Linked DNA regions of Homo sapiens. The protein of the gene in region 1 purifies or fractionates together with the protein of each later gene. This does not show direct contact. Each region holds a gene or a part of one and is shown in the gene's direction. Other genes may lie near its edges.

Region 1 (7,754 bases):
TGTGTTCTTCTTCTCAGCTATTGCACCCTCCTGGAAGGTTTTCCTCTGGAGAGAGTGGGATTATAAGCAGTAAGAGCATACATATAACCTTAAAACCCCTATCCTTCTAAGTGTTTTCTAATAAGTAGAACACATTTGTGTGCCTTGGGAAACCACACAAAACTAAACTGAAGAATGGTACTTTGCTAATACCAACCTTCCGCCACACATCTGTTTTGAATAAACGAAGGACCACTCTCTAAGATGGTCCATTTTCCAAAGGGAGGAATTTGTTTGCTTAGAAACGGCAACATTCCAGCTCCAATCCCACTGTCGCCACTATTTCCGGGGGCTATTTTACAAACTAGCCAATCAAGTCTGGGCTATGTAAATATTTCAAGGATATAATCCAGGGGATTACTCTTCTAATTTTCCCCCTGGTACTGTAATTCAACAGCCTCTTCTGCTGCTCTGATTGTCGCTGTTGATGGATTTTACCACCATTTGCTGAGACCACTTACAAATTATGCTCCTCAGGCAAGGCTCCCCAGCGTGGGCCCAAGGAATTTGGCTCGCCTTGTCACACCACATCAGAAGTTGTCTATGGTATTGTGGGGGTAATTCTGTCTGTCCAGCAAAGTCCAATGACACTGCTTAAAGGTCATTTTACCTTCCTCATCCCCACATCTAATTAAGTGGGCAGTCTGCTGACTGCAGGCATGTAGTGGAGTGGGGTGGTCACATGCCAGTCCACTTTTATTAAAGTTTGGTGTTCTGTCTCAATCATTTTCCATAGCAGGACTTCTGCGTATTCCCTGCAAAATAGGAATCTAAAGAGCCCTTTAGGCTCTTTTCAGAGTCTCCTCTTTGCTTTGACTATGTCTATGAATGAGCCTGGAGCCTTCTCTTTTGATGTCTCTTTGTTTTTTTGTTTTTTGTTTTTTGTTTTTTTTTGAGCGGGAGTCTGGCTCTGACGCCCAGGCTGGGGTGCAGTGGCGCCATCTTGTCTCACTGCAACCTCTGCCTCCTGGGTTGAAGCCATTCTCCTGCCTCAGCCTCCCGAGTAGCTGGAATTACAGGTGTGTGCCACCACGCGCTAAAATAATATACATATGTGCTTTCCAAATGTAGCTTTTCTGGGACTTTTATTGGATCTGTACCATTTCTGTTTTCAGCTCTAGGGAGCAATTGATTATGAGATGTCATGAGGAGCAACTCTGAAGACTCTGTTCCAGCTTAAGGGAATCAGCCAGTCCATCCCTGTTTCTCTGTCATTGAGCCTAATTAAGTAGGGTGTGTGTGTGTGTGTGTGTGTGTGTGTGTGTGTGGCAAAACTCCAACTACAATTGAGAGAATACCTCAGTTTGGCAGGCTTGAGATGCATATACCTGTTATTAGCCATAGTTGGGAGTGGCTTTTCCAAAGATGACATCACTTGGTGTGTCTTAGATGGAAAGGAGGTCCTGTGATGCTTTTGATAAAAAATCTGTATAAAGAGTTGCTTGAGGGCCAACTTGAATACCAGACTAGAAAAACATGGTGCCTGTAGTGAATTGCTTACAAGATGTCTGTCAACAATTTTCCCCCTCACTGTACAGACATTCCACGCCTCCTACCAAGAAGCAAAGTCTATGACCCCTCTCCTTGAATTGCGGCTGGCCCTCTGATTTGCTTTGACCAACAGAATGGAGCATAAGTGATGCTGTGTGACTTCTGGGCAAAGCCCTTGCAGGCCTTGCAGCATTTGTTTTTGTTCTCTTGGAAGCTGGGTGTCATGTAAAGAAGTCTGGGTTATCCTACTAGATAGGCCACATAGAGGATGGAGGGAGGGAGCGCGTGCAGAAAACAAAGGGAGACAGAGGGAGAGAGAGAGAAACAGAGAGAGAGGGAGAGAGAGAAAGAGTCTGGAGGATGAGAGTCCATGTGGAGGAGAAATTAGGTGCCCCAGTTGACAGGCAGCACCAACTGCCAGACATGTGAGTGAAGCCATCTTAGATCCTTTATCCACAGTTGAGCCTCCCAGCTGAGCATTGCTTGAATTCCTGCCCCAAAGAACCACAAGCAATAAAATGGTTGTTTTAAGTCACTAAAGCAGGGTCTTGTAGTCCAGTTGAAACTGAGCCAAAGTTGGCCAGGTGACAGAGTGACTCCTGCAGTCATTTGTGTGATATGTTTGTTGCTGTGGCAGTGGAACTGGGATTGCATGAATTCACGATGAAGCTTGAGAATGCCTTAGAAATAGTAGGAGAGGGCATTTTCAGGTCTTGCTGCCTGTGGACCACGTAAAGGAAGGGCAGGTCCTCAACCCAGAGCCACTCCAACCTGGTTTGGGCTTGGCACACAGAAGGCACAAAGATAAAATGATGACTCATGGATATAGTGAGATCAAGCTCTTCCAGAGGCCACGCCTATGGGGGTGAGTTGGTAAGTAAGGGCACTAAGGAGGTCCTGGGTACATTTCTAGTCCATACTTCCAGACTAACTTTGCTTGCACATAGTGCCCAGGATTGAGGCTATTATGGTAAATTTGGATGTGGTAGCTCTCAGGACTAGTACCTATATTCTTCTCTTGTTCTCTGTGTCAGTCCTTTGCCTGTTACTACAGTGTGTCTAGCAGGAAGACCCAATCTTGTTCTACCTAGAGTGTTTTCCTGGGGATTAACATTCTGCCCTTGAACTGCAGCCTGGTAGTCCTGACAGTGCTTCCGCCTGCCTGAGTCTTTGGATGTCACCTATTCCAGGACTTTGTCCTTCTTTCTGTTCAAACCCCTCTTCTCTTCTTGTTAGACTTCCCTGGTTGTCTGGACTACCACCTGTTGTTTGCTAAATCTCTATGATGCCACTTCCATCAGTTTTCTTCACTTCCTTATAGCTTCTGGGACTTGATTTTTCTGCCCTCAGTTCCTGCTAGGTCCTCACTGAATCTGTTCCATTCCATTAAAATGCCAGGGCTATGTAAGGCTGTGTCCAAAAACAGAGTTCAATTCTTCTTTCACACAATAGCCTTTATACATTTGACAACCTTTTTATCACCTTTAATCATCTCTTTAGGCTAAATCTTGCTGGTTCCCACATTTTCAAGGTCACCCATTTATGGTTATAATTTAGCTTATCAATATTTTCTTTTGGAGGGAAAAATTTCTTCTTAAGAGGTGGCATATAGGAGTGATTCATGTACTTCAACGCAGAGTATAGTAAGCATATCCTTTCTTATGAGAAGGGCATTATATTTTATTAACTATGCCTATATTTATGTTATTTTGCACTAGCATTTTAAAGGGGGCTCCATCAGGGTGGTTCAATGTTTTATGGGCCCAAAAGCTTATATGACTTTAGGGACTCTTTAAAAAACACAAAATGAAATACAAAATTATAAAGTTAGTTTCAAGGCTTGTGAAAATGAGAGATCCCGAAGTTTGTTTCATTAGTTTCGTTGTAAATCTGCTGCATATTTCTTATTATGAGAAAATAATAGTATTTTCTCATTAAATTCCCAGGTCTCCTTTACCAGAATTGCTGTCTAATCAGATTTCTGCTCTGTTTTAGCACACCTTATAAAATTTAACTTGTATACTTAGCATATGGGATTGTGATTAAATTAATACATGTAAGGGACTTAGAACAATGCCTAGCACATAAAGCACACAATCAACCTTAACTATTATTATTTGTATTATTTACTAGAAGGACCTTGGCAAATAATTTATCTTCCCAAATCTTTTTGATGTAATGGAGCTCAAACGTGCCTGCCTTTTTCATAGGGTGATTGTGAGGATCAAATGATGATAAAATATGTGAATGTATTTTGTTAACTGGAAGGTATTGTTACTGAGGTTTCATTTGACATTGTTAATTTTGGAAAAGGTTCTGTTTAGGAAAGAAAGGGAGACGACTTTGGCTGTGGTGGAATCACTAAAGACCTCAATAAAAGTGGGAGGAGTAAAAGGGATAAGAGGTGCGTGTGAGGCAGATGCTGGAGGCAGTGAGCTGGACACGTTGTTTGACACCAGCTTGACGTGCAAACCTTCAAAAGATGAAATATATTGAATCTGAAACATATTGACCTCATTGTACAAAAGAAAAGAACCAGAAGGGTAGCGTGTGTGTGCTTGTGGCTTTCCACAATTTAGCCCCAAACTAGGTTTTTTCCAGACTCTTCTTCACCCGTGGTCATGCTCTGCAATCCAGATTCCCAGGCCTCTGCCCAGAGAAATCCTACTTACTCTGGGGAGGCCTTTCCTCCACGGGGTTTCCCCAACCCCTCCTGTCCCTCCCACAGGAAGAATAAATGGTTCCTTTTCAATGCCCTTCCTGTGAAAGCACTTTTTCCACTCTAGACTGAGGGAGACCCAGTTTTCCTTATTCTGCATCTCCAGGCTCTGCTCCAGTGTTTACCTCTAGGAAGGCGCTCAGTGAAGGTTTAGTCAGCAAATGCACTTTGAATAAATAACTTTTAAAAGTTGAGAGGACATTTAAGGCCGGGAATCGCAGTTGAGAACGCCTTGCCCAGGCGCATTAGCTGTCATCCGGGCTGCCCTGAGGGCGAAAGACGTCCTCCACCCCCGGGTCTCCGCGGCCGCGCTTGCCGAATCCCGCGGGAAAGGTCCCCCGCCCGCGCAGGGGCGGGGCCTGGGCGTCGGGGGCGGGACCGCCCGCGGGGGTTTCCGCGCCGGGGGCTCGTCCGGCGGGGTCGCGGGAGGGGCTTCCGCCGCGAGGGGGCGGGGCCGGCCCTCAGAGTCCTCTGACGGCCCCAGTCAGGGAATTTCAATTTGAAACCTAGCGGAGGGAGGAGGCAGGCGCGGCTGCCGGCGGCTGGGACTGAAGAGGGACGGGTCCCGCGGCGAGCGAGCTCCTGAGGTACGGCGTCGGGGTAAGGAGGCGTGCGGGGCTGCACGGGCCGGGCGACTGGTCAGTGTGGGGTTGCAGGGGCGGCTCAGATTTTTCCTCTGGCTGCAGCTGGGAAGCTGATTCCGGGCAGGAAGCGGTGGCGGGACGGTCCCACCGGGATGGGGGGCGGGGAGAGGGGGCCCGGCTTTGGGATTTTCTGCGGCTCCCTCTCTCCTTTCCTTCCCGGTCTCTGCCCGACCCGATTCTTGCCCGGGGGTCCGGGTCCTGTTGCTCCGGGCCGGATCCCGGCTTCGCTGCTCCCCGCGGTCCCCCTCTTCCCTCTTCCGGGGGACCGGGGCCGCGTCCCGGCGGAGCCAGGAAAGGCGGGGGCACGGGGAGGACGCCGTCCCCCCCGGGGTGCCGTGGGCTCAGGTCACGCGTCCGGGCCCCGTGGAGCAACAGCGGGAAAAATCCGGCTCCATCCCCCCCGCGGGGAGGGGGTCGGCCGCGGCGTCGCCCTTCAGGAGGAAGGTTTTAGGAGGGGAAGCGCGGGCCGGCCGCGCGCGTGGGGACTGCGGGAAGCCGGGCGAGGGCGGCGCGCCAGCCCCACGCGCGGTGCGGGTCGGGCCCGCTGTAGGCTCGCGTCCGCGCCCCCAGCTGCCGCCTGCGCCGTCTGGGAGCTGCGGAGAGGGACGCGTGTTTCGTGCTCCGATCCTTACAATTCCCACACCCAGGCCATCTCACCACAGATGGCTTGTTTTTTCTCCTCCTGCGCCTGGGGGCCGAGGGTTGGGAGCATTTTTAGGTGAGCAGCGGGGAAGGGCGAGGAGAACCTAAAGGAGCGCGACAGGGTTGAAGTCGGCGTCTGGGGACGCCATCCCCAGGCGCAGACGCTGCCCCCAGCAGCCTGAGGTCTGTGGTGGGACATCAGTTATGCTTCTCTAGATCGCTCACCTCCCCTGAGGTCAAGTTTTTTTTTTTATATATATGTATAAATAAAATGAGGTTTGGTGAGAAGAACTACTGCCTAGAGTCTATTATTTTGGGGAGGGGTCTGCGTATGGAGCCCTCCCTACGGACCCGGGTAGTCTTTCATTGAATTGCCCCATCAACACCACAGCTGCCCTTAATTTTAAGATCCCTGGGTGGATGGGAGAGAAGGTGGAATCTAGAGGAGCTGTGGCTATATTTTCGCTTTTCTGAATCACATCTTTCCCCAGTTTCTTGAACTTCTTGCCTCTGAAATGGCATGTGTGTGCCAGGCGTCTTGTTCCTCTTGTTACTGTTATTTAAGCTGTTTTAAAAAAACGACTTTCGCGGTTTTCCCCTCAGTTTTTCAGTCTTTATTTCCTCCCCCACCCTACGTTTTTATTGTTTTTTTCAACGGAATACATTATTTATCTGGTCTCTTTATAACGCTGTTGAGAATTAGCATTTCAGTTGGTGTTCTGTCAGATTTCACCTTGGACTTAGCAGTTGAGGGAAACTGAGTCAGTTTCTATGCTGCAGGGGCTAGGATTTAGAATTCTCAAGCTTTGAACAGGTTTCAGTGGGGGAACGAATAGTGCTTAATCCTATTCAGTTTCCCTTTGCAGGCTCATTGCTGTGAGAAATCACTGGGTGGCTGTTGCAGCCACTGATGGGGGCTGCATTGCAATGCAATCTTGAATTGTGATAAGGGCCAACTGGCTCCATCCGTTAGGCTGTGAGTTTGACACAACTTTTGAAGAGCTATGCTGTGTCACCTGTCAGAGCTCGAGTGGTCATTCTTTTAATTCAATTTAAGAACCACCATCAAACTTCAGATATCTATTCTTTGGAGGTTATTGGAGAACTGTACAAGTGGTAATGGCTTGGAACAATGGTGTGGATTTAGCGCTAATTTAATCCTATCCTGTCTTCCTCACTTCTTGGGCAGAATTCCCACTGAAGTCAGTAGTGGTCTTGTGTGCAGACAGACTGCCGAGAACAAGAGGCTGCTCATTTAGAGTAACGGGAAGGGACGGTTTCTTTCCTTTTAAAACATCCCTCTGTAAGAAAGACTTAGTCATAACAGTTCTTTAATCTTTAACCACTAGTCCAAGTAGTTGAGAGCACTTTTTGCAAAAACCTTCGAAAGAAAATTCGTGGATGAATTGAGCCACGTCCCTCGAACTCTTCATATATCTACGTTGCATGGTGATCCTTAAAAAAGATTAAAAGTGATTTTAAAAAATCAGTTAAAGCTATAATTTCAGTAAAATTTTTCCTAACTTTTGTAAAAAATGTAAACTGCCAGGGAGCATTTTGTAGCAACTAAGTGTGTATATTTCAAATCTGAAATTTAAGTCCAAGTAGAAAGAAGCAAATTTAATTTAGGGGATGAATCTGAAGAGAGGCCACCAAAAAAATAACCATCTAAATATAAAAGAAGGAAGTTCAGATATCTCTTGCTGTTTTTCAGGAGATAGCTTTAGGGCAGTTTGCTCACTTTCATACCTGTTCTTAACGATTTACTGACTGCCTGGGTCCATCATTAGATAATGCTAGCACTTGGAGGTTTCCAAATGAGTTTTGTGCTGATCTGAGTTGCTGAGCTAGTTAGATCCTTGGCTTCTTAACGTAACATTCTTGTGGCTTACCCTTTCCAAATTACTAGTTCTAAGGAATTGAGTTTAGAAAACCTAACCAGTGACCAGAATGTAAAAATAGGTATTTAAAAATCAGAACCATGTCCACGTGTACTACCCAACCACTTGCTTTCAACTAAAAATACTTGCAAAGATGACAAAGCAGTCCACAACCAAAATATTTATTGGTACAATTTCTCTGTAATTAGTAATATTGTACAGTTATGTTTAACATCAGGTTCTGCCCTGAATCACCCCTCTCATATTACTGTGGCTGGTGAACTACAAAGGTTGTATCTTTGCCATTTCATTTAGGAATATAGGGTTTATATTTTATAT
Region 2 (6,985 bases), on another chromosome or scaffold:
AGACAGACCGCTACAAGCAGGAACTAGAGGAACTGAATCGCCTGCAGGGGGAGCTGCAGGCTGTGTGAGACTGGTGTTAGCCACCGCTCACTGCAAGCACTGCCTCCCTCCGGGGTCTGTAAGAGGCCGCAGGGGCCTACAGACCTCATCCCCCCATCCCCTGGCTGGAGCCACTTCCAGTGGCCACTCTCAGGCAGAGTTCAGATTCCTGCCCGCAGGGTCCTCTGGGCTGGGCCTTGGGGCAGCTCCCACATTCCCAGGGATTTTCCCCATCAGTCTGTCCCTTGGGTTTTGCAAGCTACTCTGCACCTGGGCTGGCCTCAGTTGAAGGATCATGCAGTAGATAGAGGGGAGGCAGGGAGAGCTTGTGGGACCTTCAGTGCTGACTTTAGCCACCATTTCCATTCCTATACAGGATGTGAAGGTCAGAAGGCAGCCAATTGTTGGTTTAATTTTTTTTTTTTTTTGAGACAGTCTGTTTCCCAGGCTGGAGTGTAGTGATACAGTCACAGCTCACTGTAGCCTCGACCTTCCAGGCTCAAAAGATGCTCCCACCACAGCCTCCCAGGTAGTGAGTAGCTGGTACTACAGGTGTGTGCTGCCACACCCGACTAATTTTTTTGTAGAGACGGGGTTTCGCTGTTCCCAGGCTGGTCTCAAACTCCTGGGCTCAAGTGAACCTCCCGCCTCGGCCTCCCAAAGTGCTGGGATTCCTTTCTTTATTTCTGTAGAATCTATTTTATGGTTGGCATTTTGGGGGAAGATTTCGATGGGTTCCACATTCTTGCTTTAGTTGTTGTAGAGGGATTTGGGTGTTTCTACCCAAGGCATTGGTCTAGCTTTTCCTACAATGAACCTATCTTTGGAGGTTCAAGCTCCCCACCTTCCCCCACTGTGGTGACCTGTGGCCACTTGCAGAAGGGATGGTGCCTGACCCACTGCCCTAGCCCCACGCTATGCACCAAACTTGTTCTCCCCGTCCTGGTCCAGGGCTGGGGTCTTTAGAGACTGACAGCCTCTGCCCCAGGCCTGAGTCCTTAGCAAGGGTTGGGTAAGGAGGTTTTAAGGGAGAAGGTCCAGTCCTTAGCCCTTGAAATACAAAGCTCTTCTGACACTGAATTTGGATGCACCTTGTTTTATATAATAAATCGTGTTTCACAGATGTCCCTGTTGCTGTGAAGGGGATGCAGGGCAGGCCTTCTTAGGATAACTTTACTTGTTCCCAAGAGCCGGGTGGTGGCAAGTTTGGGTGGACAGGACCTGGGAGGGGAGTGGGTTTCAGGTGTAACCCTGTCAGATGCTAACAAGGGCCAACAGCTTCTGAATGGGGAGAGTTATTCCAAGGCTACAGGCTTTGAACTCTTGTCCCTGAGTTCAGAGTCTCTATCTCTTCCACTGAGTATTTATTTATTTAGAGACGGAGTCTTGTGTTGCCCAGGCTGGAGTGCAGTGGTGCGATCTCAGCTCACTGTAACCTCCGTCTCCCAAGTTCAAGCAATTCTCCTGCCTCAGCCACCAGAGTAGCTGGGATTACAAGTGTGTGCCGCCACACCCGGCTAATTTTTATATTTTTATTAGAGACGGGGTTTCGCCATGTTGGCCAAGCTGGTCTCAAACTTCTGACCTCAGGTGATCCACCTGTCTGGCCTCCCGAAGTGCTGGGATTACAGGCATGAGCCACCACACCCAGCCCTCCCTGAGTGTTTAGTATAAGCACTCTTTTTTTTTTTTTTTTTTTGAGACCGAGTCTCGCTCTGTCTTGCACTGTCGCCCAGGCTGGAGTACAGTGGCATGATCTCGGCTCACTGCAAGCGCCGCCTCCTGGGTTCACGCCATTCTCCTGCCTCAGCCTCCCAAGTAGCTGGGATTACAGGTGCCCACCACCACGCTCGGCTAATTTTGTTTTTGTATTTTTAGTAGAGATGGGGTTTCACCGTGTTAGCCAGGATGGTCTTGATCTCCTGACCTAGTGATCCCCCTGCCTTGGCCTCCCAAAGTGCTGGGATTACAGGTGTGAGCCATCGCGCCCAGCCGAGACAGTCTCACTCTTTTGCCCAGGCTGGAGTGCAGCTGTGCAATCTTGGCTCACTGCAGCTTTGACCTCCCAGGCTCATGAGCCTCCCACCTCAGCCTCCCAAATAGCTGGCACCACAGGACGTCCCACCAACCCAGCTAATTAATTTTTTTTTTTTTTTGTAGAGAGGAGGGTCTCACTATGTTGTCCAGGCTGGTCTTGAACTCCTGGGCTCAAGTGATCCTCCCACCTTGGCCTCCCAAAGTGCTGAGATTACAAGTGTTAGCCACTGCACCTGGCCTCAAGTTTCTTTCTTGAGCAACTACCACATACTAGGGGACTTTCATAGGTTATCTTATTTAACTCTCACAACACCTTAAGCGTTAAGTCTTTATCATTTTCATTTCAGAGATAAGGAAACAGGCCCAAGAAGGCTGAAGATCTTGCCCAAAACCACACAGCTAGTCCATGAAACTGAACTTGGACTATCTACCCCTCACACGGGAATCTCTCTTTGATTTGAGAAAAGGAACCAGTGCCTTTCAACTGGAACAGAAAGGAATCTGATCTCAACACCTATGCCTCCACGTAAATTATTTTTTTCAGCCTTATTTCCCTCAAAATTGTAGAGTCCTAATCTTCTTCTATCTTGTGGTGTGAGACCTTGGATAAGTCTCCCTTCCACCTTTTCCTATTACTTAAAATGGTGAATTTGCATAAACCAGGCTCTAAGGGTCTTTTCTGCACTGTTCGGATGTGTACAAATTGACATCCAAGTTTAAAGGAAGACTCTGAAACTTAGGTCAATGACTTGCCCAAGGCCATATAGCGAGGGCCTGATGTACACATATCAGGAGCTTGGGGCATCCTCAGCTCAGGAAAAGGGACCTCCTGGGAGTGCCTGCGCCCACACGGGATCAAAACGGTGCCCAGCCTTCAGAAACCTCAGCCCGAGTTCCAGGGGTAGGCCTGGGCCGCTGCTGCCCTTGTGCGGAGGCATCCCGTGAGCATAGGGCGCCATAGCCAAAGAAGCGGGCAGTGGGACCATGACGCCAGGAGGACACACCAGTCCAGTCCCGTTCCTGTAGGACCTCGTTTATTATTACAAGGCCCATTTAAGGGCACTTAGGCCCCACTAGGCTCATCAGAAAACCTTGAGGCGGTCCCTGGATTTAACCACTAATGGTGGGTTTGAGTACGGCAAAGTAGGGCACCTTCTACAGGCCTCACTCTCCCCATCTGGCAAATGGGCATCCTAAGCAGCCAGACACCCAAGGGCAATAACGGGAAGGAAAGGTACCCTGCATTTATGTGCGAGGCGGGGCAAACCGCCTGAGTCACCGCTCACGGTTGTGTTTTTCCACCTCCCGGCCGTCCCTCCCATCCGGGTGAGTCCTCGTGGGTCCTCCCGGAGGCGCCCCCTAGTCCCAGGCTCTGCACGCCCTGGCCCCGCCCCTTGACTCGGCCCCGCCCACAGCGGAATCCGCAGATTCGCCAGGTCGGATCCTCAGAATTCCTCGGGTCCCTCGATACTCGGCTGAAAATTCTCATCGGACTCTGAGAGGAGCGCTGGGCTGGAGGCATTTTCCCCAGGGACAGAAGCGGGCTATTCTCTCACTTGGGCCAGTAAGAAAAATCCAAAAAAAGTTGTCGACTCTGCCAGCAGGGATTGGCTAACGGGCCGTTATTTTCTTGACTCCACCAAGGCGGATGAAGGGGAGGCTACGGCTGAGGCCGGGAACAGTGGCGAATCTGCAGCCTCTCAGAATTTGGCAGTGCAAGGAAGGGACGGGGAAGAGAAGCAAAGCGGCGCGCATCCTGTCCAGCGATTCGCCCCGCCCGCCCGGTGAATCTGCGTCTGCAGAACGCGCCACTGAAGGTTCCCCAGCGCTGGCTGGCCTCCTCCCCTCCGCCCCGCCCCTTTTCCTCAGGGACTAGTCGCAGCTTTCGTCGCCGCCGATTCGTCAAGGTCCCGGGCCGCAGCATCTAGATCGTCGTGGCGAAGCCGACTCTCCGGGGGATGCGGCCAATCTCCAAGCTCCCTGGGCCGCAACTTCCGAGCCTCCCAGGGCGCCGGCCGAGGCGAAGCCGCTACCCTCGGCCCCGTGGGTCCCCCGGCAGCGCCTGTGGCGAAAGTGCGAATGCAGACCCTGTGCCCGCTGGGCCTCGCGCAGGTGGCAGTGGTGTTTGGTGCGCGCGCCGGGGAGGTGGTGGTGGGGGGGCGCCGCCGCCGCCACCGCTGCGGGGCCGGGTCTCGCGCTGCCGCTGCCGCCGCCTCGCGCCGCTGAGGTGCCGCGCGAGGTGGGGGGAGGGGGAGCCGCTCGCCGGGAGCGGGTGAGTGGGGCCGCGCGGCGCGCGTGCGCGGAGACCTGCTGGGGGGGGTGCAGAACGCGCCGGGGCGGGAGGAGAGGGCAGCGGTGCACGTTCCCCCCACCCCCCCGCCCGGATTCGGGGTCGAAGCCGGGTCTCGGGCTCGGTCTCGCGGTGTTTCCAACGCCCCGAAGAGGTGCCACCTTTCGGCCGGAGGATCGGGGCGCGGGGAGGAGAGCGGGTGTGTGGGAGCCGTGGCCGGGCTCGGCCCGGGCCGCTGGCCGGTGAGGAGGCGGGAGGGGGCGGGGCCTGCAGGGGGCGGGGGAGGGGTCTTGCTCCGAGGCCAAGTGGGGCGCGCGCTAGGGAGAGCGGGAAGGTAAGGGGGCTCGAGACGGGCCTGGGGGCCTGACAGTAGAGTTGGGAGGTGGAAAGAGGCTGGGTTGTTGTGGCGAAACAGAGGGTACTTGGGGGAGAATCCGGGGGAGCCCCGGGTCAGGGTGAGGGTTGGAAACTGGAGTGATGGGAGAACCTGGAATCGGGGCTAGCCAATGAGGAAAGGCAGGGGAGTCAGGCCCCAAGTCCTGATCCTTCTTGCGTGTCCCTCTTCCCCTAACAGTGTAAATGAGCAAAGATGGATCAGGAAGGTGGGGGAGATGGGCAGAAGGCCCCGAGCTTCCAGTGGCGGAACTACAAGCTCATCGTGGATCCTGCCTTGGACCCTGCCCTGCGCAGGCCTTCTCAGAAGGTGTACCGCTATGATGGAGTCCACTTCAGTGTCAACGTGAGTGCCCGGGTCTTTGGTTGCCATCCGGGGAGCTCCAGGCGCCCGTCCTCTGTGATTCTGTTCAGCACCTAGAACGGTAGCCTGCCTTCTTGAAAGTGGGCAGTTGGACCCAGCTCTTCTGCATGTGTGTGTCCAGATGGGCTGCTTGGAGCTCCCTAGCCTGGATTCACCCTGAGCTCTCTTTCTGCTGCTGCTTTCCTTCCTAGGACTCAAAGTATATACCAGTCGAAGACCTCCAAGACCCCCGTTGCCATGTCAGGTCCAAAAACAGAGACTTTTCCCTCCCAGTCCCTAAGTTTAAGGTAAGTGTCTGCTGGGCTCCTGGTGTGGTAGTCCTAAGAGGGTGTGGAGGATGCGTCTTGGCACTATAGCTGAATAAAAGGGTTTCCAATGAAAGGATCTCAGCCAGATCTAGCAACCTCTGAGGCTGTGAGACTCAGTTGTTTTGGATAGGAGGTACACTTAATCTTCCAGAAAGGTGCAGGTCAGGTGTCCTAAGTGTATCCCTGGTGGCTGGGGTGTCGACTTCTTGAAGGGTGAGGTAAAGACTCTTTAGCTGCTATACCTATCACTGTATATTCGTAGACAGTGCATCATAGCACACAAGAGTGGGATCTCCCAGTTCCTTGACAGTCAAGGGGAGTGACAAGGCCACTGCCTACCTGGGTAGCACTATTCCCCGCCTCTCATTTGGCGATGTCATTTCCCTCTTGTTTCCTTCGAGGACTCCTATTCTCCACCCTAGACAAGATATTCTTCAGGCCTTGAACTGGGCCTGGAACACTGGTGGTTCTTCATTTCCTTCTCTGATTCTTTATTCTTCCTTTCTAAATAAATTGTTTGTGGGGTCCCTTCATTCTTCTTCTTCTTTTTTTTTTTTTTACTTTGTACACTTCACTTGGACAATCTCTTTCACACCCACAGCTTCAACTATTACCTAAATGTTGATGACTTCCAAGTATCTGTTTCCAGCCAACATCTCTAGGCTTGTATGCCTGGTAGGGGGACAGTTTCATTTGGAGGCCACACATGTTTCAGATTTAAGGGATTTAAAACAAATTATCTACCTCCTTAACCTACCTTTTTCATTTTCCCTCTACTCATATGTGGCAGTACCATCGACTCAGCTGTACAGCCTGGCAGCCTGTGATTCTCTCCTTTTCTCTCTCAGTTGGTCACCGAATCCTCCTGGCTCTTTTCTTTTTTATTCTTCATCTTTCTATTCTCATTGCCACTTAATGTAGACCTTGGTATTCATTTCACCTGGTCTCCTTGCCTTCGTTCTTGCCTCAGTTTCTCCTCTGCCTTGCTGTCATTTGTCTCTTTGGCTTCACTACGCTGCTGTTTTCCTTTTGTTGCCAAGTCCATGTTTTGGGACACTGACATGTATGGTTATTGACCTGGCCAAGCCTTATCCTCCGCCTTGACACCACACCCCTGTGTTACATCCACACCATAACGCTTTGCGGTTTTTCAAAAACACCAAGTTGTTTTATATTTCCATGTTCCAGGGGTCCTTGTCATTTGATGAATTGTTAATCCCCAAATCTCAGTAAGAATGACACCATCTTTATGAATTCTTCCCTGATCATACTCTGTACAAAAGTTTCCTTCCCTGGGCTCCAGAACACCATGTATGCGTCAGCTGCCACTGGGTCGTGTTGTGTTTGTATGTGCATGTCATGCTGCTTTTCTGTATGGGAATCTCTTCCTTTCTATCTCTGTATTTCCAGTGCCTCGTTCATGGTAGTTACCTAGTAAAGGCTGAGCTAGGAAATCATCGCCCTGTAGCTCGTTCTCTCCACGTATATTTATTCCTCAGTGTGTACATTTCTTTCTTTCTTTCTTTTTTTTTTTTTTTTTTTTTTTGAGACGGA
Region 3 (7,712 bases), on another chromosome or scaffold:
CTGATTGGTAAGAAATCCTTTCACTTTTGCTGGTTGCCTTTTCCCTGAGTTGTTCTAGTAACCTGGCTCACTGCACTATAGCCCTGGGGGCCAAGTTGCAACACAAAGAGAATTTATCTTTTTCCACATTGGCCAGAGCAAAATACATGTGACAAAACATAGACATTAGCCACTCCACTTAGCACCCAATATCAAACGGGCAAGACTCAAACTTGCCCCTGGATGGGCCCTGTCATCTTTAAATCTTTTTAGAAGCTTCTGCATATTAATAGGCATCCCTAGATGAGACTAATTTGGGAGCCCTCATTTTTAAATGCACTTCAGTGCATTGTTGTTCAGTTGAAACTTTCCACTGTAAGTTATGTTTAGTAAAATTTTGCCATTTCTGTAAGGCTCTGCTGCTTCCCAGGCCTAACACTTATGCAGGTATAAGCTGGAAGAAACTCAGTCCTCCAGAAATTAAGGATCTATTTTTACCTAAGATATTGGCTTCACTTTCAGTTTCCCTTGATCAGCTTAGCCAATGATTTTTTCCTACCTAAGCAAGCAAAAAAAATGAAATAAAGGGGAGGAACAGAAAAATCCCTGTGAATTTTCAAAAGCCAAATTTTACAACCCCAACAATACCACCACGTACTACCAGTTTCTTTCTGGCCTAGTCAGATATAAAAGGCCTCTAACTGGATTCAAGCCAGTTAATTACCAGATCAAATTTGATCCTGGACCCAGTCTAGTTTCTGTCGCAACTTCTAAACCTAGTTTGGAAAAGAAATTTGCTCAAAGAAACTCAGAGAGCTGGCCGGGTGTGGTGGCTTATGCCTGTAATCCCAGCACTTTGGGAGGCTGAGGTGGGTGGATCACTTGAAGGTCAGGAGCTCCAGACCAGCCTGGCCAACATGGAGAAACCCCATCTCTACTAAAAATATAAAAAATTAGCTGGGTGTGGTGGTGCATGCCTGTAATCCCAGCTACTCAGGAGGGGGCAGGAGAATTGCTTGAACCCAGGAGGCGGAGGTCACAGTGAGCCAAGATCTCGCCATTGCACTCAGCCTGGGCAACAAGAGCAAAACTCTGTCTCAGAAAAAAAAAAAAAAGGAACTCAGAGAGCTCAAAACACTAATCTGTGGAGCTCTGAAATCTGAGAGAGAACTTACCAGGAACCCCAGCTGCTGTGACAGATCAAAGGACACAGTGGATTCTGCAGGTAACTTGCTTGTTCACTCAGCACTCCTGGGGATCGTTACAACCTCTACTTCAGATCCCACTTCTGACACCATCTGTTAAAAGAAAAACTTCAGCAGAATTAAATTTCAAGGAGTTTAATTGAGCAATGAATAATTTGCAAATCAAGCAGCCCCCAGAATCACAGCAGATTCAGAGAGATTCCAGGGATGCCTCATGGTCACAACAAATTTATAGACAAAAAACAAGAGAAGTGATGTACAAGAATTGGAAGTGAGGTACAGAAACAGCTGGGTTGGTTACAGGTTGGCATCTGCCTTATTTGAACACAGTTTGAACACTCAACAGTGTATGAGTTGTTGAAGTATGGCTGCTGGGATTGGCCAAGGCTCAACTATTGTTACAGGTGAATACTCCTAAGTTAGGTTTTCAAAGTTATCTCCCTATTAACTTAGGTTACAGTGCATCCACAAGGACTCAAATATAGAAGTACAGAGCCCTCCTCAACCCATATTTAATTCACTTTAACACTACCAACAAACTAGTCTACGTTAAAGGAAAAAAAAATTTTTTTGAGATGGAGTCTTGCTCTGCCACCCAGGCTAGAGTGCAGTGGCACAATCATGGCTCACTGTAGCCTCCACTTCTGAGGCTCAAATGATCCTCTCACCTCAGCCTCCCAAGTAGCTGGGATCACAGGCACATGCCACCATGCTGGGCTAATTTATTTATTTATTTTTTGGTAGAGATGGGGGTCTCACTATGTTGCCCAGGCTGATCTCAAACACGTTAAAAATTTAATGCCAGCCTAACTGTTGAGAAGATAGAAACAAAACTACCCCACACATCCTGTCCTCCAGCCTCAGCAGTCCTACTGCAAAGGTATTACCATACTGAGTTTACAAGGGGATTTACTTGAATTTCACTTGTTCTCTCATGGCCAAATTATTGCTCTTGAGTTTAATGCCTCAGGTCTCTCATCTGTAAAGTGGGTCAATAATAGTAACTTCACAAACTTGCAAAGAGTAAATGAAGAGATGATGCAAGCAAAGTGCAGGTAAAGTGCCTGGAAGAGAGCCTGGCACAGAACACTCGTTAACTTTAGCTACCATTATGACGATTTTGGAAGTCTTTCTTCCTATTACTACTATACTCTTTAGTGCCTAACGAAGAAACAAAACATCAATTGCAATTTTGGTGGATTAATTCCTTTCCAGTCAGTGCCCCAGCTCCTTACTGATGTAGCTAGCTCTTCACCCTGCCCTTATTAACCCTTTATACTTATCTGCCCACCTGACACGTGGGGACGTGGCTTGTGCACTAGGGCAGTATAAGGACCTAGATTGATGTATGCTACTTGGTTGTGTATACCTGAGATGTGAACAGTCCCAGGAGATGGGGACGGGGTGGCCAGATCAGAACATCATAACCGAGTTGGGAGACTTCTGAGCTCCAGATGAGTGGTCTCTATGTCCTATGCATCCTTTGGCAAGGGACTCCATGTATTAGTCTTTCTCTCTTTGTTTTTTTTTTTTTTTTTTTTTTTTTTTGAGACAGTGTTTCGCTCTTGTTGCCCAGGCTGGAGTGCAATGGCGTGATCTCGGCTCACCGCAACCTCCGCCTCCCGGGTTCAAGCAATTCTCCTGCCTCAGCCTCCCGAGTAGCTAGGATTACAGGCATGCGCCACCACGCCAGGCTAATTGTGCATTTTTAGTAGAGACGGGGTTTCTCCATGTTGGTCAGGCTGGTCTCGAATTCCCGACGTCAGGTGATCCGTCCGCCTCGGCCTCCAAAATGCTGGGATTACAGGCGTGAGCCATTGCCACCGGTGTATTACTCTTTCTCTATTGCAATTCCCCTGTCTTGATAAATAGGCTCTGTCTAAGCAGCAGGCACGGTGATCCCATTGGGCAGTTACAACAGGGTTGTATGTAACTGGGTTACAGGGTTGTAACAGGGTTGCTGCTGTAATGGCCCAATGGGTTCACCTTGCCTGTTGCCTAGACAGAGCTGATTTATCAAGATGGAAATTGTAACAGAAAAACAGTAATTCACGCAGAGCTGCTGTGCAGGAGACTAGAGTTTGTTGTTGTTGTTTTGAGACGGAGTCTCTCTCTGTCGCCCAGGCTGGAGTGCCAAGGCGCGACCTCGGCTCACTGCAAGCTCCGCCTCTCGGGTTCACGCCATTCTCCCGCTTCAACCTCCCGAGTAGCTGGGACTACAGGCACCTGCCACCACGCCCGGCTAATTTTGTTTTTGTATTTTTAGTCGAGACGGGGTTTCACCGTGTTAGCCAGGCTGGTCTCGATCTCCTGTCCTCGTGATCTGCCCGCCTCGGCCTCCCAAAGTGCTGGGATTACAAGCATGAGCCACTGCACCCGGCCTAGAGTTTTATTTTTACTCAAATCAGTTTCCCAGAGCATTCAGGGATCAAAGTTTTTTTGTTTTTTGTTTTTTGTTGTTTTTTTTTTTTTTTTGAGACGGGGTCTCGCTCTGTCGCCCAGGCTGGAGTGCAGTGGCGCTATCTCGGCTCACTGCAAGCTCTGCCTCCCGGGTTCACGCCATTCTCCTGCCTCAGCCTCCCCAGTAGCTGGGACCACAGGCGCCTGCCACCACACCCGGCTAATTTTTTTGTATTTTTAGTAGAGACGGGGTTTCACCATGTTAGCCAGAATGGTCTTGATCTCCTGACCTCGTGATCCGCCCGCCTCGGCCTCCCAAAGTGCTGGGATTACAGGCGTGAGCCACCGCGCCCAGCCAGGGATCCAAGTTTTTAAGGATAATTTGGCAGGTTGGGGAAGGCCAGTGAGTCAAGAGTGCTGATTGGTTGGGTGGGAGATGAAGTCACAGGGAGTTGAAGCTGTCCTCTTGCGCTGAGTCAGTTCCTGGGTTGGTGGGGAGGGGGCACAAGATCACATAGCCAGTTTATCCATCTGGTGGTGCCAGCTGATCCATCAAGTGCAGGGTCTGCAACATATCTCAAGCACCGATCTTAGGTGCAGTTTAGGGAGGGTCAGAATCTTGTAGCTTGCAGCTGTAATTTCTAATCTAAACCATAATTTCTAATCTTGTGGCTGATTTGTTAGTCCTACAAAGGCAGTCCAGTCCCCAGGCAAGAAGGAAGTTTGTTTTGGGAAAAGGCTGTCATCATCTTTGTTTTAAACTTCAAACTGTAAACTAAGTTCCTCCCAAAGTTAGTTCAGCCTATATCCAGCAATGAACAAGGACAGTTTGGAGGTTAGAAACAACATGGATTTGGGTAGGTCAGATCGCTTTCAGTGTCTCAGTTATAATTTTGCAGTGGTGGTTTCACTGTGACAATCCTGAGGGACTTCCCACAGAACCCTCAGTTATTGAAGCCCAAAGCCTCAGAAATGGCGAGGAAGAAGGGGAAGGGTGTTGCGCGGTCAAACTCCACACGTTCTTAGCCGACCTCCGCCGCTTTTCCTAGAATGTCTCATCTCTATGGTCGACGGCGTTCAGATTCCGGGGCAGACTAAGTTGTTCTTCCGGGGTGACTGCCTCTTCCAGGGCGGGCGGTGTGGTGCACGCATTGCTGTGCTCCAACTCCCTCAGGGCCTGTGTTGCCGCACTCTGCTGCTATGAGCTTCCTCAAAAGTTTCCCGCCGCCTGGGCCAGCGGAGGGGCTCCTGCGGCAGCAGCCAGACACTGAGGCTGTGCTGAACGGGAAGGGCCTCGGCACTGGTACCCTTTACATCGCTGAGAGGTAGGGTTCCTGGTCCCCAGCGCTGGCCTCCTGCGCGCCGCCCTCCTCCTTGCTGGAGCAGGCGGTGCGAAGGAGCCGGGCAAGGGGCGGCCTGGAGGCCTGCTGGGAGCGGGGTCTCGTGCCCGACGCCTCAGGGATACCTGTAGCGGGTGGAAGGCTCGATTTTTCTAGTACTCCTCCGGAGTCTTCCATTCTCTGTTTTCTCCGGCCGGAATTTCCCCTTATGGATTGTGCTTTTTTTTTTTTTTTTTCTTTTTTTCCTCTTTCTCTTTCTCTGTCTCTTTCTCTCTTTCTTTCTTCTTCTTTTCTTTCTTTCTTTCTTTTATTTTCTTTTTTTTTTTTTTTTAACTCGCCTATTTACTGGAGGTCTGGCGCGTGCGTTGCCCTTAACGCACGGTCTGGTTTTAAGGGTCTGAAGTGTGCCTGTCTTTCCGGATGAACAGATGCAGGAGATGTTCCCCTCTCTGGGATACGTAGTTTCAGAGCCGACTGTGGAGGACTTTTAAAGTTTGGTTACACAATAAAGATTTTCTTCTGTAGGTATAGTAAGGAGAGGAACACCCTTAACTCGACACAGACAGGGGTCATATGCAGAGGGACCAGACTCCCGTTTTGGGGTCCTGGAAGGAATTGCCCTTTTATTTGGCCACGTGGAGCACTTTGGTATTTTGACAGTCAGATAGATCTACCGTAAATATTGTGGTTGTAGAACAGAGGTCCCTGTTTCCTTGACATGCAGTTTTCTTTATTTTGAAGCCTGTAATGACACATCGAATCTTTCCTGCCCTTCAGATATGTGTTGCTTCCCCTTTTGCTCCATCACTTGTCTACAGCCAGAGAAAATTCTCTACTTTTAAGAGCTCATGTGATTACTTTGGAACCACCTGTAAAATCCAGGATAATCTCCCTATGTTACTGTCGACTGGTAACCTTAATTACGTTTGTGAAGTCCCTTTTGCTGTGTAATATAACATATTCACCCGCATGACACCAGAAAGTGAAGGTCGTGGGGCCAAAATTCTGCCTACTACAGAATCCAGAGCACAAAAACTGTAAAGAACCTCTGCTTTAAAGGGAAATTTAGACATTGAACAAGGTTTAGGCTTCAGGCCAGAAACTGAGATAGGACATATGGATGGGAGGAAAAGCAAGATTGAGGTGAGAGGCAGATAATGAGTTTGGTCAGGACATGTGTGGAGTAGTTGTACATATGACCGTGTTGGGCCGGGCGCGGTGGCTCACACCTGTAATCCCAGCACTTTGGGAGGCTGAGGCAGGCAGATCGCTTGAGCCCAGGAGTTTGAGATCAGCCTGGGCAGCATGGCGAAACCCAGTCTCTACAAAAAATACAAAAATTAGCCAGGCATGGTGGCGGCCTGTAGTCCTAGCTACTCAGGAAACTGAGGTGGGAGGATCACCTGAGCCCAGGAGGTCGAGGCTGCGGTGAGCCGTGATTGTGCCCCTGCACTCCAGCCTGCATGACAGAGTGAGACCCTGTCTCAAAAAAAAAATAAAAATAAAAAAAGAATGTGTATCTTGGGAAAGTGGTATTAAAGAGAGATGTTTGGAGGTCGTTAAAGTGTTAGTGTATACTCATGGAAATGGATTAGATATCTCAGAAGAGAAGAGGACCAAGTGTAGAACCCTAGGGATACGCCGACGGGTGGGTCATGAAAGAAGAAACTTGAGAAAGGAGGAAGGAGCAGTCAAAACAAAATGTGAAGAGCATATATTGAGTATTGACAAGGAGATCTTTGATAATTGGGGAAAGCAGTTTCTTTGAAGTGGTGGAAGATGGAGCACAGATACATTCCTAGTTCCCAGGCATTCCTTTTTTATTCATGACATTTCTGTATGTTGACGCTTCTTTCAGTATTATAACTCCTTTTGAGGGACAGTCCTGTATTGATTTTTGCATTTAGAAGAATTTCAAACCTAAGATCCAGTGTGGTGGCTCACGCCTGTAATACCAGCACTTTGGGAGGCTGAGGCGGGTGGATCACCTGATGACAGGAGTTCAAGACCAGCCTGGCCAACAATGTGAAACCCTGTCTCTACTAAAATACAAAAATTATCCGGGTGTGGTGGCGTGCACCTGTAATCCCAGCTACTTGGGAGGCTGAGGCAGGAGAATCGCTTGAACCCGAGAGGCGGAGGTTGTAGTAAGCCGAGATCATGCCATTGCATTCCAGCCTGGGTGACAGAGTGAGACTGTCTCAAAAAAAAAAAAAAAAGAAAAATTTCAAACCTAAAGAAAAGTTGTGTTATTACTACCCATACACCCTTCACAAAGATTTATTAGTTAACATTTTGCCATGTTTATGTCTCTGTTTTTCTTTTTTTTCTGAGCCATTTGAGAATTGTCGACGTTTTCCACTTCCTGTTCAGAAGAACAGGGACATTATCTTGTATAACCACAATACAATTCTCATACTAAGGAAGTATAACTCTTTTTAAGTTCTTATCAGCTTTTAAAAAATTCTTAGCCTGGGCAAGGTGGCTTACGCCTGTAATCGCAGCACTTCGGAAGGCCAAGGTGAGCAGATCCCTTGAGTCCAGGAGTTCTTGACCAGCCTGGACAACATGACAAAACCCCATCTCTGCAAAGAATACAAAAACTGCAAAAATTAGCCGGTCGTGGTTGCACGTGCCTGTAGTGGCAGTTACTATGGGGAGCTGAGGTGGGAGGATTACTTGAGCCTGGGCAGTTGAGGCTGCGGTGAGCTGTGATCACACTACTGCATTCCAGCCTGGGTGACAGAGTGAAACCTTGTCTCTGAAAAAAATTAAACATTATTTGTTT

Evidence for each region. The genes of interacting proteins can lie anywhere in the genome.
Region 2: the proteins of EPB41L2 (region 1) and SETD1A purify together in Homo sapiens (affinity purification with mass spectrometry; 2 studies listed by BioGRID and IntAct, with this or other methods). This does not show direct contact.
Region 3: the proteins of EPB41L2 (region 1) and CLNS1A purify together in Homo sapiens (affinity purification with mass spectrometry; 3 studies listed by BioGRID and IntAct, with this or other methods). This does not show direct contact.

The regions. Positions count from the first base shown.
Region 1 is NC_000006.12:131,060,237-131,067,990, reverse strand, and holds the start of EPB41L2 (band 4.1-like protein 2), read left to right. Parts: upstream 1-4,745; 5' UTR 4,746-4,836; exon of another isoform or gene 4,837-4,849; intron 4,850-7,754. UniProt on the Homo sapiens protein: Required for dynein-dynactin complex and NUMA1 recruitment at the mitotic cell cortex during anaphase.
Region 2 is NC_000016.10:30,953,777-30,960,761, forward strand, and holds the start of SETD1A (histone-lysine N-methyltransferase SETD1A), read left to right. Parts: upstream 1-3,977; 5' UTR 3,978-4,188; intron 4,189-4,193; exon of another isoform or gene 4,194-4,348; intron 4,349-4,397; exon of another isoform or gene 4,398-4,608; intron 4,609-4,668; exon of another isoform or gene 4,669-4,700; intron 4,701-4,760; exon of another isoform or gene 4,761-4,784; intron 4,785-4,940; 5' UTR 4,941-4,955; coding exon 4,956-5,105; intron 5,106-5,314; coding exon 5,315-5,410; intron 5,411-6,985. Other genes in the region: ORAI3 (protein orai-3), read left to right, coding at 1-68. UniProt on the Homo sapiens protein: Histone methyltransferase that catalyzes methyl group transfer from S-adenosyl-L-methionine to the epsilon-amino group of 'Lys-4' of histone H3 (H3K4) via a non-processive mechanism.
Region 3 is NC_000011.10:77,634,787-77,642,498, reverse strand, and holds the start of CLNS1A (methylosome subunit pICln), read left to right. Parts: upstream 1-4,704; 5' UTR 4,705-4,784; coding exon 4,785-4,909; intron 4,910-7,712. UniProt on the Homo sapiens protein: Involved in both the assembly of spliceosomal snRNPs and the methylation of Sm proteins.